2 separate regions of the Homo sapiens genome follow, and region 2 is linked to region 1. The links come from fine-mapping of genetic effects on gene expression. Tissue or cell type: lung. Region 1 holds a variant in brackets; the other region holds the start of a gene. All regions are shown on one strand. Distances are between the middles of the regions.

What was found. PIP is the estimated chance that this variant, and not a neighbour inherited with it, causes the effect.
Region 2: MTREX starts here. The variant in region 1 is fine-mapped to the expression of MTREX in lung (TOPMed, PIP 0.95).

Annotation. Positions count from the first base shown.
Region 1 is chr5:55,477,553-55,485,552 of GRCh38, forward strand. The region is part of intron 1 of PLPP1 (phospholipid phosphatase 1); the gene reads right to left. Among named protein-coding and RNA genes, the nearest start is that of MIR5687, 27 kb to the right of the region's middle. The variant T/A (reference allele first, on the strand shown) is at 4,443.
Region 2 is chr5:55,304,227-55,312,358 of GRCh38, forward strand. It overlaps MTREX (Mtr4 exosome RNA helicase), which reads left to right and starts at 3,763. Exons shown (of 27, transcript NM_015360.5): 1 at 3,763-3,921. The coding sequence starts at 3,788. It overlaps DHX29 (DExH-box helicase 29), which reads right to left and starts at 3,468. Exons shown (of 27, transcript NM_019030.4): 1 at 3,161-3,468. The coding sequence starts at 3,347. It overlaps LOC124900979 (a long non-coding RNA gene), which reads right to left. Exons shown (of 2, transcript XR_007058774.1): 2 at 3,923-4,211. RefSeq lists enhancers at 3,137-3,396, 3,537-4,016.

The DNA of each region.
Region 1 (8,000 bases):
CCAGCTAATTTTTGTATTTTTAATAGAGAAGGGTTCTGCCATGTTGGCCAGGCTGGTCTCAAACTCCTGACCTCAAGTAATCCACCCAGCTCAGCCTCCCAAAGTGTTGAGATTACAGGCATGAGCCATAGTGCCCAGCCAAAGAACCTCTATAATCTAATTTAGTCTATACAAAATAATTGAAACTTTCACTGTCTACAAAGCATATTTCTGAATTGGTTGCATTTTCCAATAAACATTTCTTTCTTTTGGAATAGTATATTTAGTATAGAAATTAAATTCACAGGTGTGGTGGCATGCACCTGTAGTCCCGGCTACTTAGGAGGCTGAGGCAGGAGAATCACTTGAACCCAGGAGGTAGAGGTTGCAGTGAGCCGAGATTGTGCCATGGCACTCCAGCCTGGGTGACAGAGTGACACTCTGTCTTAAAAAAAAAAAAAGAAAGAAAGAAAGAAAGAAAATTCACATATAATAGGATTCGAGTCCAAAACTCACTAGGCTGTGTGTCCTTATTCTCAGAGAAAACATATAGGCCCTAATACACATGCCCAAATGTATTTAGAAATGCTATTAACATGTATGTCCATTAATATTAAGGGGTTTTGTTCCCCCCTGACCACAAAAACCATGTTAGAAACTATTCTTAGATTTAGAAAAAAAGTTTGTGGGTATTTTTCAGGATAGTAGGGGAACAAAATAAAACCCCATACAAAGGATAATAGCCCATTTTAAAAAATAAAAATATTCATGTGGGCAAATACTAAGTAAACCCACTGTGCAAGGAATTCCGCTAGGTGCTACCAGGAATACAAATTGAATAAGGCACAGTACATAATTATAGCAGAGAATAAACTGAGGTACAAAAAATTCTGAATGTTCGAAAGAAAAGGAGAGTTGGTGATATCTCTGAGTGTGATATTCGATAAGCCAGTAGTTATGAGAGACTCCATCTCAGCAGAAGGGGTCTAGGACAGAGACAGAGATTTGGGGATAGAAAGGGTCTCTAAAGTCACAGAGGTACAAAACACTGTACAGGATGTATACAGAGAGAAAAGAAGTGGAGGATGAGGCACAGAGCAACAGCAGAGGAAGATGAGGAGAGGAAGAAGATCCACTAAGGCAGACATGAGTGGGGTAAGGGCAGGTCAGGAGACAGTGACCTCACCGTGGCCACATCAGAAAGAGGGGGCATACAGGAGGTGGAGATTGGTCCACAGTGCCCAATATGGCATCCAATGGGATTTCAATTGCCAGTCTTAGTAAAAGAGGTTTTAATAAGAAGGGGTAATATCCTGACTTCAAGTTTTGGTAAGGAAATATAAGAAAATAAGCATGAATCTACCACAAATGTACACTATTCTGTTGAGAGAATCAAGAAAAGAGGCTGCCACCACCAAAGGCCTTAGAAATATTTTTAAATTGATAATAAATAATGGCCAATATTTGCCATTCCTCGTATAAGCCTATGAGATTTTTTTTTTTTTTTTTTGAGACAGAGTTTCACTGTTGCTGCCCAGGCTGGAGTGCAATGGTGCAATCTCGGCTCACTGCAACCTCCACCTTCCGGGTTCAAGCGATTCTCCTGCCTCAGCCTCCAGAGTAGCTGAGATTACAGGTGTGCACTACCATGCCCAGCTAGTTTTTTTGTATTATTAGTAGAGATGGGGTTTCACCATGTTGGCCAGGCTAGTCTCAAACCCCTGACCTCAGGTGATCCACCTGCCTTAGTCTCCCAAAGTGCTGGGATTATAGGCGTGAGCCAGTGTGCCTAGCCAAGATGTATTGAATCAATGTCATTACCCAGTGCCATTTCATTTTCACTAACTATCTAAACCTAAATACAGACCCCTGGAAGGGGATGAAGAAAAAGACCAAACCACAGGTTGTTCACTGACCCACCTAAGGCTCAAAAAGAACAGCTCTTTCAGATTCCTGTTCTGGAAATATGTGAATTTTAACAAAAACTGAGTAAGTCCAAGGTGGCAAACAACACTGAGCCATGTACAAGGAAGACTGGCTGAAGAAGAAGCTGAGAACAAAGCAGGTCTACAGAGGAAGAAGCAGTGACTAGCCTGGTCCCTGAACCGGGTGAAATGGGAAAGTAGCTCTGGCTCCCCACTGCCAAAAGGCCTCAGTGATCTTGCTGTTTGGGGTTATTAGAGCACCTTTTACCCTTTTCAACAAAGCCCAATTTTACTTAATCTAGTTAGAATTTCTACTCCTTGAAACCAAGAGAGACAAAGCAAAATCAACTATAATTTAACCATTCCTCCTACTTTGAGAGCATGTAGGTTATTTTTAATTTTTTGATTACCCTATGTGATGCTATAGTGAACATTTCTGAATACAAATTCTTGTTTGCATTTCTAGTTATTTCCTTAAGATATATATGTATGTGGAATTAAAAGATACAAACATTAAATCCTTGATAAACTATTCCAAAAGGGTTAGTGCACACCATCAACTTACTTCACCAGACACAGTGTACAAAAGTGTGGAGAAATGCAAACATTTAAATAGATACTTGATGTTAACTTTGACATTTACTGAAGATTAAGGCAAAAGTGAAAGAGTTCCCTTTCTTCGTTTATCAAATCAAGTCAAAACCCTTTTCCTTTCACCTGAAAGATTATATCTCTAAATCTCTTTCATCATTTCTCAAATGACTACCCTTGTCAAACACTGTTTCTTATTACTTGAGCTGGCAAAATTCATTTTCATGCTCCCTTTTTTTAAATTGAGGTATAATTTACATACCATAACATTCATCCATTCTAAGTATACATATAATTCAATGGTTTTGGTAAATTTATATAGCTATGCAACATCACCACAATCTAGTTTTAGAATATTTTCATTACCCCCCAAATTCCCTTGAGCCCATTTGCATTTAATCCCTGCTTCCACCAAGAAACCCAGGCAACCACTCATCTGCTATCTGTCTCTACACAAATTTGCCTTTTCTAGACATTTCATATAAATGGAATTATACAATATGTAGTATTTTATATGTGGCTTTTATCACTCAGCATAATGTTTTCGAGGTTCATCTGTGTTACAGCATGCATTTTGTTCCTTTTTATTAATGAATAGTATTCAGTTGTATGTATATACCACATTTGGTTTACCCACTCACCAGTTAATGGACATTTAGATTGCTTCCAGTTTTGTGCTATTATGATTAATCCTATGAACATTCATATACAAGTATTTTTGTAGATATGTTTTCATTTCTAATGGGTAGATACCTACAAGTGGGATTGCTAGGTCATATGGTAAGTTGATGCTTAACTTTTTAAGAAATTGCCAAACTGTTTTCCAAAGTTGTTGCACCCTTTTACATTCCCACATTCCGCTTTTTGATACATTCACTAGTCAGCCCATGACTCAGGTTCTCTGCATAGTAAACTCATACTCAGCTATAAATAAACACAACTTTCTATATTTTACCAGTGAATATTTATAATGGTTCAAGACAGAGTATGTGATATGGTAACTTACTGCTTCCACAAACCAAATACCACAAGAACACTTCGCCGTCCTTTATTAGAGACAGGAAAGGACAACATAAGAACATGGTCACACCACATCTTCTTTAACTTCCTCTTGCACAAATGCTCAGGATCTTGGAACCATAATACAAATACTAACAGTTTTATTTAGAAATATTGGTGCTGGGGTATCCAGCAAATCTGGGAAACTGGTTAAAAACTCTTTTACATGTGAAGGGAACTCTTCTAATATTAGCGAAAATTACAAAACTGCCTTCACAAAATAATGTTTTAAGGATCACCTATATAGCACCATGGATATATTGTTCCTTTTTGTTGCTGAACAGTATTCCATTGTACGAATCTAAAACATACCAGATGCCCAAGAGAGAGTGGCATGCAACTTTAGAGACCACAGTAGCAAATCACTAAGGGATACACTGCCTTGGGGATGACAGCAGCTGGCAACAGTCTGAGAAATCCTGACACACAGATGGCAGGTGCCTTGGGATTTACTGTGAGATCAAGTACTACCTCAATAGTTTGGAAGAAAAAAAGACCCCATAGGCAGACCAAAAGACCCACGGAATAGAAAGAACTGTGTCCACTTGTGAAATATTTCAGGAAATACATTCTTCTCTTAATGCCTGAACAAGTAGAGAAGAATGTGGATGTAGGCTAGAAGCCTGAAGAACCCAGACATATAGGTCAGACTGTCAAATAATGGAGCTATTACTATTTTGTTAATAAAATTGCTCATAAGAATTGAGAATCAGTACTTTCCACAATGCTGTGGATAGGAAATGCAGCTACACATGAGAATAAGTAAACAAGAAAATAAAACTTTTTTCCAACCTAAGAAACCAATCTCCACAGTACTATATTTCTACAATTCTAATAGACGTTTCCTCCATATTTTAAGATATCTCCAAAGAGGGAAATACATATATA[T/A]ATTTTTATTTTTATTTTTATAAGATCTATAAATATATATTTATTTATATAAGATACATCCAAAGGGGGAAATATAAATATAATTATATATTTATATTTAAATATTATATTTAAGTATTATATTTAAATTTTATATATTTATATTTCCCCCTTTGGAGATATACATATCTCATACATATATATATAGTATATAGTATATACACACACAGACACACACACACACACACACACATCTCCAGTCAGGATACGCATTCAATGTAAGTCTCCTTTGTCCCCCCTCACCCCCGAAAAACTGTTTTAATGAGGTATCTGATAGCAAGAGATGACTTGGAAATATGGTCAGTTTCCACAGAGTTAAGCTGAATTTTCATGGTAGTAGTCATTATCAAACATAAACAACAATCTTATTCTATTTAACATTTTGTAGTTTTTCATAAAATTTTCTACCTCAAGTTATTAAACACCTATTACATGCCACTAAGGTTACAATGGTGAGCAATACAGACCATTCCTACTCTAGTGAAGATTATTGTCTTACTGCCTATAGAGGTGAAAATAAGAAATGGCAGCACAGCGCCTATGTCCCCATGAAAACAAGGGAGAAATGACAAACAAATGTGAGCAATAGACTGTTTGGATACCAGCTTCCTGAACCAGTACAGGAAAAGGACAGCAAGAGAGATGTGCCTTGCCATAAAACCTAACCAACTCCAATCTCCTCTGCTATGCAGGGTAAAATTCTAAAGCCACTTCGCCATAAGAACACTTTACTTATATAGTACTTTACACTTTATAAAAATAAACTTATTAACCCACTCATTCTTTCTTCCTCAAGACTAGCAATTTCTTATTACCATTTAAGTAAGCTATTCAAAATAATAAAAATTATACCTCAGTTACCTGCTTTGTGGGCAGCTTCTCTAAAAAAATATTATTTTTTCAAACAATGTACCAAAAACAAAGAACTTCAGAAAATCCACATATATATAGTAAATAATCTCCCTCATCTTCCAAAACATTATCAAATCCCAAACTTTTCAAATGTGGTATTCCACAACAATTCAACCCAAAAAATGTATCCTGTGTTACTTCCCCCAGGTGTTAACAAAGGGAGTAAAAGTGATTTTTTAAAATTAACTTAGGAGCACTTAGACTACCAAAATTAATAAAAAATATTTCTTAATATTTCTTAAAAAGTCGTATTTTATCCTTTAAAATTGTGAATATTGTCTACTTAATATATTATTACACTAGTAATATTTATAGTGAAAATCTGATTAATCAATGCCAGAAAAATACAAGTGCTTAATGGTATACAAAAGCTAGACATTTTTCATTATGCTAACACACAAACAACATCAGTTGAAAAGGATAATTCAAAGTACATTATTCGAGGCTAGGTGCAGCGGCTCATGCCTGTAATCCCAGAACTTTGGGGAGGCTGAGGTGGGCAGATCACATGAGGTCAGGAGTTCAAGACCAGCCTGGCCAATGTAGTGAAACTCCGTCTCTATTAAAAATACAAAAATTAGCCAGGCATGGTGGCACATGCCTGTAATCCCAGCTACTCGGGAAGCTGAGGCACAAGAATTGCTTAAACCCAGGAGGCAGAGGTTGCAGTGAGCCAATATCATACCACTGCACTCTAGCCTGGGTGACAAAGGGAGACTGTCTCAAAAAAAAAAAAAAAAAACTACATTATTAGAAATTTTGGGTTGAGAGGCTATTTCCATTTCTGTATTTTTTACACTTAGAATGACTTTACAAAAATCTCCAACCAAAAACTATAACAATCCACATCCCAGAGTAAAGGAATTTTAATAGACCAATACTTGGTCTATTAAATGGAGATATAATGGGATTTTAAATAATGCATATTTCTGAATTAACCTAGAACAAAGGTTTTTTGCATATTAAGATATGTTTACATAGATGTTCTTCTACGATGAGCTACTAACTCACTATGCAATGCACGCTTAAGATAAAGTTCATCATTAATAGACAGTGACAAAGGCTCTTTAGTTGACTAAACATTAGTTAACCAGCTGTGAACCCTCTTCTCAACTAGGCCTCAACCTTGGCCTTTCATGTCAGCCTGTCCTTGCATGGTGTGCAAGGACAGGACATGCCCAGTCTTAGCAAAAGTCCTGCTAAGTCAGCTAAGCAAGAAGCCCCTCATCCTTGATATATGATTAAATTCCTCATCTCCCACCTTTGATACATAAATCTTTGGCCTGCCTTAACAAGAATCTCCTACCTTTGATGTCTCCTCTTCGTGATTTTCCATCCACTGATTCCCCTCACCCATAAATCCACCCCCTTCTCCTTGTTGTAGTTAGAGTTGAGCCCTCCGCTATTGCACTAGGTGCAATAGTCTTGAGTAAAGTTTTCCTTACCATTTTAACAAGTATCAGAATAATTTTTTTCAACAATAGAAACCCATATTAGATGGAAAGTTTCCAACTCCTAAGTAAACTTGGGTTGGCAGATTCAAAGGAAACAACGAAAACTTTTTTAAAAAATATTAAATTGTATCAAACCAACAACTGAGTGCTTTAAACACTTTCAAGGTACCAAGGCTATAGAGTAAAAAATACAGAGACTGGGGTCTATAACAAAGAATGTGGCCTTTGTCCCTGGGAGAGAGACTCGAAAACCTTACAATTTCCTGAGTAATAGGAGGGTCTTTGTTATTCTTGAGCCCCTTGGTTCACACCTGGGTTTATGCTAATGAATGACTCAGGATGGGGGCTGGTCACACTAACCATGTGATTAGGGGGACAGGGCTTTAAACCAGCTCAACCTCCAGGTAGGTGAGGGGAACTAGAGATCAAGTTCAATTGCTTGGCCAATGATTCAATCAATCATGACTACATAATAAAACTCTAATAAAAACAATGGACACTGAAGGTTGGAGGAGCTGCCTGGTTGGTGAACATATCAATGTGCCAGAAAAGTGACACATCTTGATGACATTGGGAGAGGACAGAAAAGTTCTACATTCAGGCTGCCCCCCACCCTGAGACTTTGACTGTGTATCTTAATTTGGCTCATTCTGATTCTTTATAATAAAACTATAATCATAAGTAAAATGATTTCCTGAGCTCTATGAGTTGTTTTAGCCTATTACTGAACCTGACAGAGTCACAGGAACCCCCAGAGTTGCAGCCTGGGGAACTTCAAATTTGCACCTGAAAACTACAGTGAAAGCAGTCTTATTGGGGACAATGACCTTAAATCCGTGGAGTCTCATGCTAACTCCAGGTGGTTAGTGTCAGAATTGAATTACAGCATGCTGCAACACAAAAGACAAACTTTCCACATTCAAGGAGTTACATGGGTATGTGTAGATCCACTCAGGTTAACGGACAACCAATCACTTCTAAAAAGCCTAGTCAGCTACGTAGACTGCTGAGCCACAGGACAAGGAGTGAAGTTTGATTTACTGTGAAATCTCAAAACATAGTTATTTTGATCTTTTTTTTTCTTTTGGCACTTTCTTAGAAACAGACAAAATCCACACACATAACAGTTAAGCTTCCACAATGCTATGTAAAA
Region 2 (8,132 bases), 170 kb before region 1:
TCTGTTCCCTCTCCCCAGGAGACTCTTTACCCAGTCATCTGTGTAACTACTTTACCTGCCTCCTTTGCTTGCTCAAATGTCACTTTTTTTTTTTTTTTTTTTTTTGAGACCGAGTCTTGCTGTCACCCAGGCTGGAGTGCAGTGGCACAATCTCAGCTCACTGCAAGCTCCGCCTCCCGGGTTCACGCCATTCTCCTGCCTCAGCCTCTCCGAGTAGCTGGGACTACAGGCGCTCGCCACTATGCCCAGCTAATTTTTTATATTTTTAGTAGAGACGGGGTTTCACCGTGGTCTCAATCTCCTGACCTCGTGATCCGCCTGCCTCGGCCTCCCAAAGTGCTGGGATTACAAGCGTGAGCCACTGCGCCTAGCCACCTTCTTATATGATGCCTTCCTTCCCTGACCATCCTATTTAATACTGAACCTCTCCCCACCCTCCTCCCTATTCGGCCTCTTCAGAAATTCTTTCATGAGCAAATGAAATTAAAAAAAAAACAAGACTGGTATTACTTGTTGTGCAAGCCATTTGGTGATTCTGAACCTCTACGATAGAGGACAATTTTGACCAGCTGTGCCGTCAAATTGGAAAGATAAGGAGGGACGGAAGTAGAGTAGAACCATTACATCTACATTAGGAACTACACAGAGTTGAGCATTTTTCCACTTTTTTCTCCAAAATAGGTTTATTGTACGTTATACTATATATTAAAAGCACCCTAAAATAAACCCAAAAGTTATGTGCAAATTTAGTAGATAACCTCTAGTTTTTTTCTCTTGATTTCTTGGTCTTAATAATTCCTTTGAACTTTCCTTACCAGTTATCCAAGTAATTTTCTTCATGACAATATGCACAGCACTAGAGTAGATACTGGGGAAATGTTAACACATATCCATAAAACTGTTCCTACCTCCTGTAATTTTGTTGGATATATAAAACATATAATTCTTTACATATCATAAGGCAAGAACTAACTATCAAAAAGAATGATTTAAACAACTATGATACGTCAGTTGTGAATAGCAGGAAGAATTCAAAAGGAAGTTGTTATCTGAAATGGGTATTTTAAGGTTTTGGTAGATGATGTTAGGGACAGATTGCACTCCATGAAGAAAAACATGGCAAGAATAAATACGAGGAAGGAGAAAGCTAAGAGCTCCATTTGGAGAAATGAAAACACACCAGACTTGCTATAGTTGAATAGAGGAATTATTAAAAGGTTAGAAAGAGGGTTTTAGAAGCTAGCTAAATGATTTGGATTTTATTGCAAAGTCAGTGAGGATGCCATGGAAGAAAATAGGAAGTGTTACGACCAAAGCAGCATTTCTGGAAGATCAGTCTGATGTTGATATGCAAGACCAACTGGAGGAAGCAAAATGAGCACAGCTGTGGAGCCCTATTAAAAGACTTCGTTGCTACTCCAGGAATTCACAGGTACCAAGACTAGGATGTGAACTACACAAATGCAAAGTGAAATATGGAAAAACAGAAACAAGGAAGTCGAAGAAAAAGTTAGTTTGGGGAAAGAAGAGTGGTTTAGTACTAGCCCTGTTAAATTTGAGATGCTTGCAAAAAATAGGGTCAGAGAATCCAGCAAAATGTATAAATTGCCAACTTGAGCTTGGAAGAGAGGCCATCTACAAAGGAAAAGATAGAAGTAATGGAAATAGATGAACACTCCTAGAAGGGCTTTAGGAGTGAACTATACTGTCAAGGATTGACACCTTGAGAAAGGGTCACAGTTTGGGGCTGGAGGAAAGGGAATTCAAAGAATACAACAAATGACTATCGGTTCAAATTCAGAGGAATGTCAGTAAAAGACAAAGGAAAAGTAAAAAAGAGGCTGATCCACAGAATAAAACTGCCATAGTTGTCAGGGAGAAATTCTATGTATTTGTAATTACAAGTATGCTAACTCTGTAGCTAACACTACAATAAATCGCAGGGCAAAGAACTGTTTCCACCTTCTAGGTAAAGGTCTGGTACCTGCCTACTTTTTCAGTCTCATCTCATTTCATCCTTTGGCGATGCTTTATGTTCTGTGAATTCCTCAAGAGCCCCAAGCTCTTTCCTGACTCAAACTTTTTACACATGATGTTCATTACGCCCGCCTGGAATACTAATTTCTGCCATGCTTCACAGAGTTAACTCCTTTTTCATTCTCCTCATCTCAGCTTAACTGTTACATTTCCAGACACCATCCATGATACCTGCTCATCCCGAGAAAAATTAGATTACCCTGTTAAACTGTCTTCCCTGGCTTTTCTTTGTGGCACTTATCTATTATAAGGCTATAAATATGTCTGTGTGCGTTACCTATTAGTTAATACCTATCTCTGACATTAGACTGGCAAGCTCCATGAGGTGATGTCTCTTTTTGCTCATCACATTCCTCACATCTTATCAGACACATACTAAATATTTGCATATATACACATAAATGCTCAGCAAATATTTCTTGAATACTCCAATAAGTACAAGCAAACAACCCGAGAAGAACACAACAGAATGTAATTGTTCATCTTTTGAGCTCAACCGTAATATGTGGCCTGCTCATCTGCAGCAGGAATCGGCCATCTATAAGTTGAGTTGTCAAATCAATTTGTACAGTAAGCAAAACTGCATGGCGGCAGAAACGAGGGCAGACAATTTTACAATAGATTACACGTAACCAGTGTGTAACCAGTGTGTAAGTCCTGTAATTTTTATTAAGTATTGATTTTTCCAGAACGCATGGAGACACTAGATTGTTGCTGAAAATGATATGAAAAACTGACAGAAAATGGGGCTGGCTGGCACCAGGAGGTCAGGAACTCCACTCAGTACTCGTCTTTGCGTTAGCCTAGCTAGCTGAGATGGTGCTCAGGATGAATTCCTGCTGAAACAGGAGCTAATGCAATTATTTTGTTTTTAGAAGGGGGAGAAGTGTGAGTTAAAAGAGAAATGCCAGGCTGCAACAGGGCTACTGTCAGAATTTTGGAGGCCCAAAGAGCTTAGACTTTTTTAATCTAAAACAAGGCCACCCCATGGGGAGGTAGCAGCTCGAGTGTTGGGAAATAGAAATGTTGGGCCCGAAGCTCCTCCCGGGTTCTAAGGCCCTTTCCTCAGGACAAGCAGCAAGGTCTCAGGGCAGACAGCCAGGGGCTGGGGGACCTCTCGTACCTTGCTTGACACGGGGCTCCCTGGAGCCGGCAGCGGCAGCGGCAGCGGTGGCCGGCCTGGACACTGGCTTCTTGCTTTGGGCCTCCCCGGCAATTCCAGCCTCGGCAGATTTGGCTCTGGAAGCAGACACGGCGGCCCGGACCACCGCGGCCGCTGGAGCCTTGTGTTTCTTGTTCTTGCCGCCCATGTTGCAGCTGTGGCAGAAGATCCTTCGCGGCCCAGGCCCCGACGGTACCACTGCACAGCCGAGAGCTCTTCACATTCCCCGGCTCCGGGGCTGCCACCCTGCGCTTCGATCCGGGCTTCTCGGGCCGGGGCGACCGCTGCCTCGCAATTGGTCGAATTCAGCAGGCTCCGCCTCCTTGAGTCGCCAGCTGCCTGCCACACGCCAGGCGCCACGCGCCGCCCTCGCTCTTTATCCACTGAGCAGCTTATCCACTTTAGGTCGGAAAGGAAAGGAAAGAAAAGCAGGAAAAAAAAAAAAAGTCAGGGGAACATTTTTGTCGGCTGCGCGACTCGACTACTTTTGTCTCCTGCGGGCCACTGTTGAGCCTTCACGAGACGTCACTGTCTTCGGTCGCGGGGCATCGTGGGTAGGAGGGAGATTTGCTCTCACTGCTCCCAAAAATGGCGGACGCATTCGGAGATGAGCTGTTCAGCGTGTTCGAGGGCGACTCGACCACTGCGGCGGGAACCAAAAAAGACAAGGAAAAGGACAAGGGGAAATGGAAGGGGCCTCCAGGGTCTGCAGACAAGGCAGGGTAAGGAAGAAGTTCCAGTTGTTGCTTTTATTTTTTTTCTCGGTGGGGAGGAAGAAAACACTACTCTCTTAGGAAGAGCACGAGAAAGTGAAGTGTACATTGAGTGGCGTTGGAAGTGAAGGGGTTCCAGAAAAAAGTTGGAGAGGGTGGAAGAATGTTGGTTCGTGGAAGGGGGGTCTTGGCGTTTCCTGGTGTCTGCAGGCAGCGTGATCTTCTGCTTCAATTCCCTTACGTCGATGTTACTGATTCTGTCCCCATCTTCGCGGTTGTCTCCTGCATCAGCACAACACCTGGCACATAGTCGTTAATAAACAAAACGAATGATTAGTTGAGTAAAAGGTGAAAAGGTTTAGAAAAAATGATATGAATTGATTTGGAGGGGAAAGGGCAGATAATAACATGAGAAGGGAGAGACATTTAATCTCCAAGATGTAGTAGTTTTCTCTTCCGTAAAATGGAGATAATAGTGCCTACCACTGGTGGATATGAGGATTCAATGAGATACACGTGTAAAGTGCCTAACAGTGGTTAGCTAGCTATCACTAATAAATGGTAGCTATCGTGAGTTTATTGAGAAAAAATTTAAAAATTACTGGACCCTACCCATATGTTTAGACTGGTGCATACAGCCACCAGAAAGTGTACAGATCTGTTTATAGTAGAACAAGGAAAAGCTATTACTTGTATTAAATAAAGTAAGATGATTAATTAACAATCAACAAAATATACTCTTGGCATTGTGGGGCCAGATACCCAATAGATGCTTGAAATTAAATTAGACATGATTTTGCTCTCAAGGAATTTTCGGTGTAGGGAAAGAGAACAGGTACCCATTAAAGAGTTACAGTATAGGTGAGGAGGTCGTTAACTTAAAATGAATGATATATACAATTAAGTGTTATAAAAGTTCAAGAAAGGGAGATCCTATTTCTGACTTTCAGGAAGGCTTATTTATATACAAGAGAATATTCTGAGTTAAGGAAATTGTGTTGTTAATGGTGCCAAGTTTGTTTGTTTTTAGGAGCATAAATTGAGCAAGAGGAACTGTTTCATTTAGGGACTACAAGAGATAAGACTGGGAATATACATTGATTTGAGAACATGAGGGGCCTTGAATATCAAGCAGAGGAGTTTTGATTTCATTTTTAAAACCCTGTTGAACAAGGTGATTGGATAAGTAGAATGATAGTTTAGGAAAATTAATTTGGCAGTGGTTGGCAGAGTACTATAATAGTATAGGGAAAGAAGATAGACAGTGAGAAAGTAAATTAGGAAATTATGTTAGTTATCTGGTTGTAAAGATGAAAAGAACCTCAACTCAGGCAGTGGCAGAGGAATGGAAAGGTACGAACATGTTAAGGAAAAAATGGACAGGCCTTCATTAATTAAGGAAAACAAGGGAAAGGAAGTCAAAAGAGATGTTTAATTTGCATGTCAGGGTGAAAAAAACAGGGACGTTCAGAGGTTTTGATATAGTGATAACATTAATTTGGCTTGAGACAATGTGAAGGGATGCTAGTATGTCTGTAGGAAAATGTCCACTGGGTAGTTTTAATAGGGTTTTGGAGAGAGACCAGGACTGGAGGTATATATTTGAATATCATTTGAATTGGTCTCCTTGAGATAGAGATCTCTGTGGGGAAGTAAGTGACACAACACAGAACTTCTGGAGAGGGTACATAAGCCTAAATAAGAGATTAGAGGGATAAGAGAAAATTCTATCAGGAGTGCGAAATGAGTGGAACAAAGTGGAAAAATAGTCTACTCGCATTAAGTTGGATTGGGAGAGTTTGGGGAAGCTTTTCAGAGAAAATAAGAAAGGAGGACCAATTATTTTTATTTCTTTCAAGACAGGAAGTAATAGTTGCTAGAGTGTTTGAATGGGCAACTATGATATTATGAAGACAATACATGTATAATTTACCATGTTAGTATATACTTTACCTCAAATTTGCTAGGATAAAATGAGTTTTATTTGCAGGTTAGTTGGGGTAAGCTGTTTGACAGCCTTCCAAAGTGAAAAGAGGAAATAAAAATCTAATTTACATTTCATTATATTAGGAAATGAATATTAGAGAAAGGAAATAAGAAAACACAGGAGAACGTTAGTAGCTTAAAGGGTTTTGTTTACTACCAACACTTCTAGCAAGGTCTTCTAGATATTTTTAAGAAAAAAATCCTGGCCGGGCGTGGTGGCTCACGCCTCTAATCCCACTTTGGGAGGCGGAGGCTGGCAGATCACCTGAGGTCAAGAGTTCGAGACCAGCTTCACCAACATGGCGAAACCCCATCTCTACTAAAAATACAAAATTTAGCCATGCCTGGTGGCAGGCGCCTGTAATCCCAGCTAGTTGGGAGGCTGAGACAAGAGAATGGCTTGAACCTGGGAGGTGGAGGTTGCAGTGAGCCGAGACTGTGCCACTGCACTCCAGCCTGGGCGACAGAGCTTGACTCCATCTCAAAAAAAAAAAGAGAAAAAATCCTATTTGCCTGATTGCAGTGGCCATACTAACATTATGCATAGTGTGATTCTCATCTGATCTGTGTAACATAGGAGGGCAAATCATGGAACTTCAGAGGAACTTGCCCTTTATTTAGTATTCTAGATCAAGTGGATGCTTTTTAAAAAAATAGTTTCTTTACCTTTTAGAGATGGGGTCTCATTTTCTCACCCAGGCTGGAGTGCACTGGTGCTTAGCAGCTTATGGTAACCTCGAACTCCTGGCCTCAAGCATTCCTCCCACCTCAGCCTCCTGAATAGCTAGAAGTACAGGTACACACCACCATATCGGGCTAATTTTAAAAATGTTTTGTAGAGACGGGTGTCTCATAGTATGTTGCCCAGGCTGGTTTCAAACTCCTGGCCTCAAGCAGTCCTCCCACCTTGGCCTCTGAAAGTGTTGGGATTCCAGATGTGAGCCACTGTGCACAGCCAGTGAGTACTTTTTAAAAAAACTTTATGAGAATTGTCAAACTATGTATTTTATATATAAAACAGTATGAAGAGCTTCATGTACTCATAACTCAGCTTCACCAATATCAAGTCATGATCAGTCTATTCCTACATCTTTTTTTTTTAATCAAATGCAAGTTGTTTTTTCTCCCTAAATATTTCAGTATTTATGTCATCCAACAAAACTAACAATAATTCCTTAATATCGTTAAATACTGAATCTGCAGTGAGATGTCCCCAGTTGTCTCGGATGTTTTTTGATCATTGGTAGTTGAATCAGGATTCAAACAAAACCCTACACTGTTTTTATTGTTATGTCCCTTAAGTATTTTATGCTACAACAGCCTCCCTCTTTTTTCTTTCTGCCATTGATTTCTATTTTGGAGGGATGAGTGAAGGGAGAAACCAGGTCATCTATTCTGTGGAGTTTCCCACATCCTGGATTTGCTTTCTTAAACTGCCATTTAACTTGCTCCTGTATCCTCAAGTATCTTCTGTAAACTGTCCTCATCCCTAGAGCTGCATTTTGTGACATAATAGCCACTATCCTCACGTAGCTGTTGAGCACTTAAAATATGACTTGTCAGAATTGAGATGTTCGGTGAGTGTAAAATTCACACCAGAATTGGAAACGTTAATATGAAAATTGTAAAATATCTCCTTAATTTTAATTTGGTTATAATTGAAATGATAGTATTTTGCATATATTGGGTTCAATGAAAGATATTAAAATTTATTTCAACAGTTTCTTTTTACCTTTTTAAATGTGGTTATTAGAAAATTTTAAATTACATATGCAGCTTGTAGCTTGTATATGTATGTATATATACTGGACTGCTCTGATCTAGTGGCTTGATTAGATTCAGGTTCAGTTTACTTCCTATTTCATTACATCATAATGTCTGAATATTCTACTGTTCTAAGATTGACAAGTTGGCGAAAATAGTATCACCCTGATTCCTCATCAACCTTTCACATGACGGCTTTAGCACCTAGTGATAATTGCCCAGGTCCATTACTTCACTAGTACTTGCACAGTGGCGATTTTCTGTTTTTATCATTTCTCTCTGCATTTATTACCTGGAATCCACCTATTAAAAAAGGCATTGTCTCATCAGCTGTTTGTTTACCTTGAAATACAGTTCATAAAGAAAAGGCAGGATAAATGCTTGATCCTTTAACAATTTTTAAGGAAATGAGTTGTGCCCTAAGGAAGTTTCAATGGTGACCAACATGGGTGTATGATTATGTTTCGTTT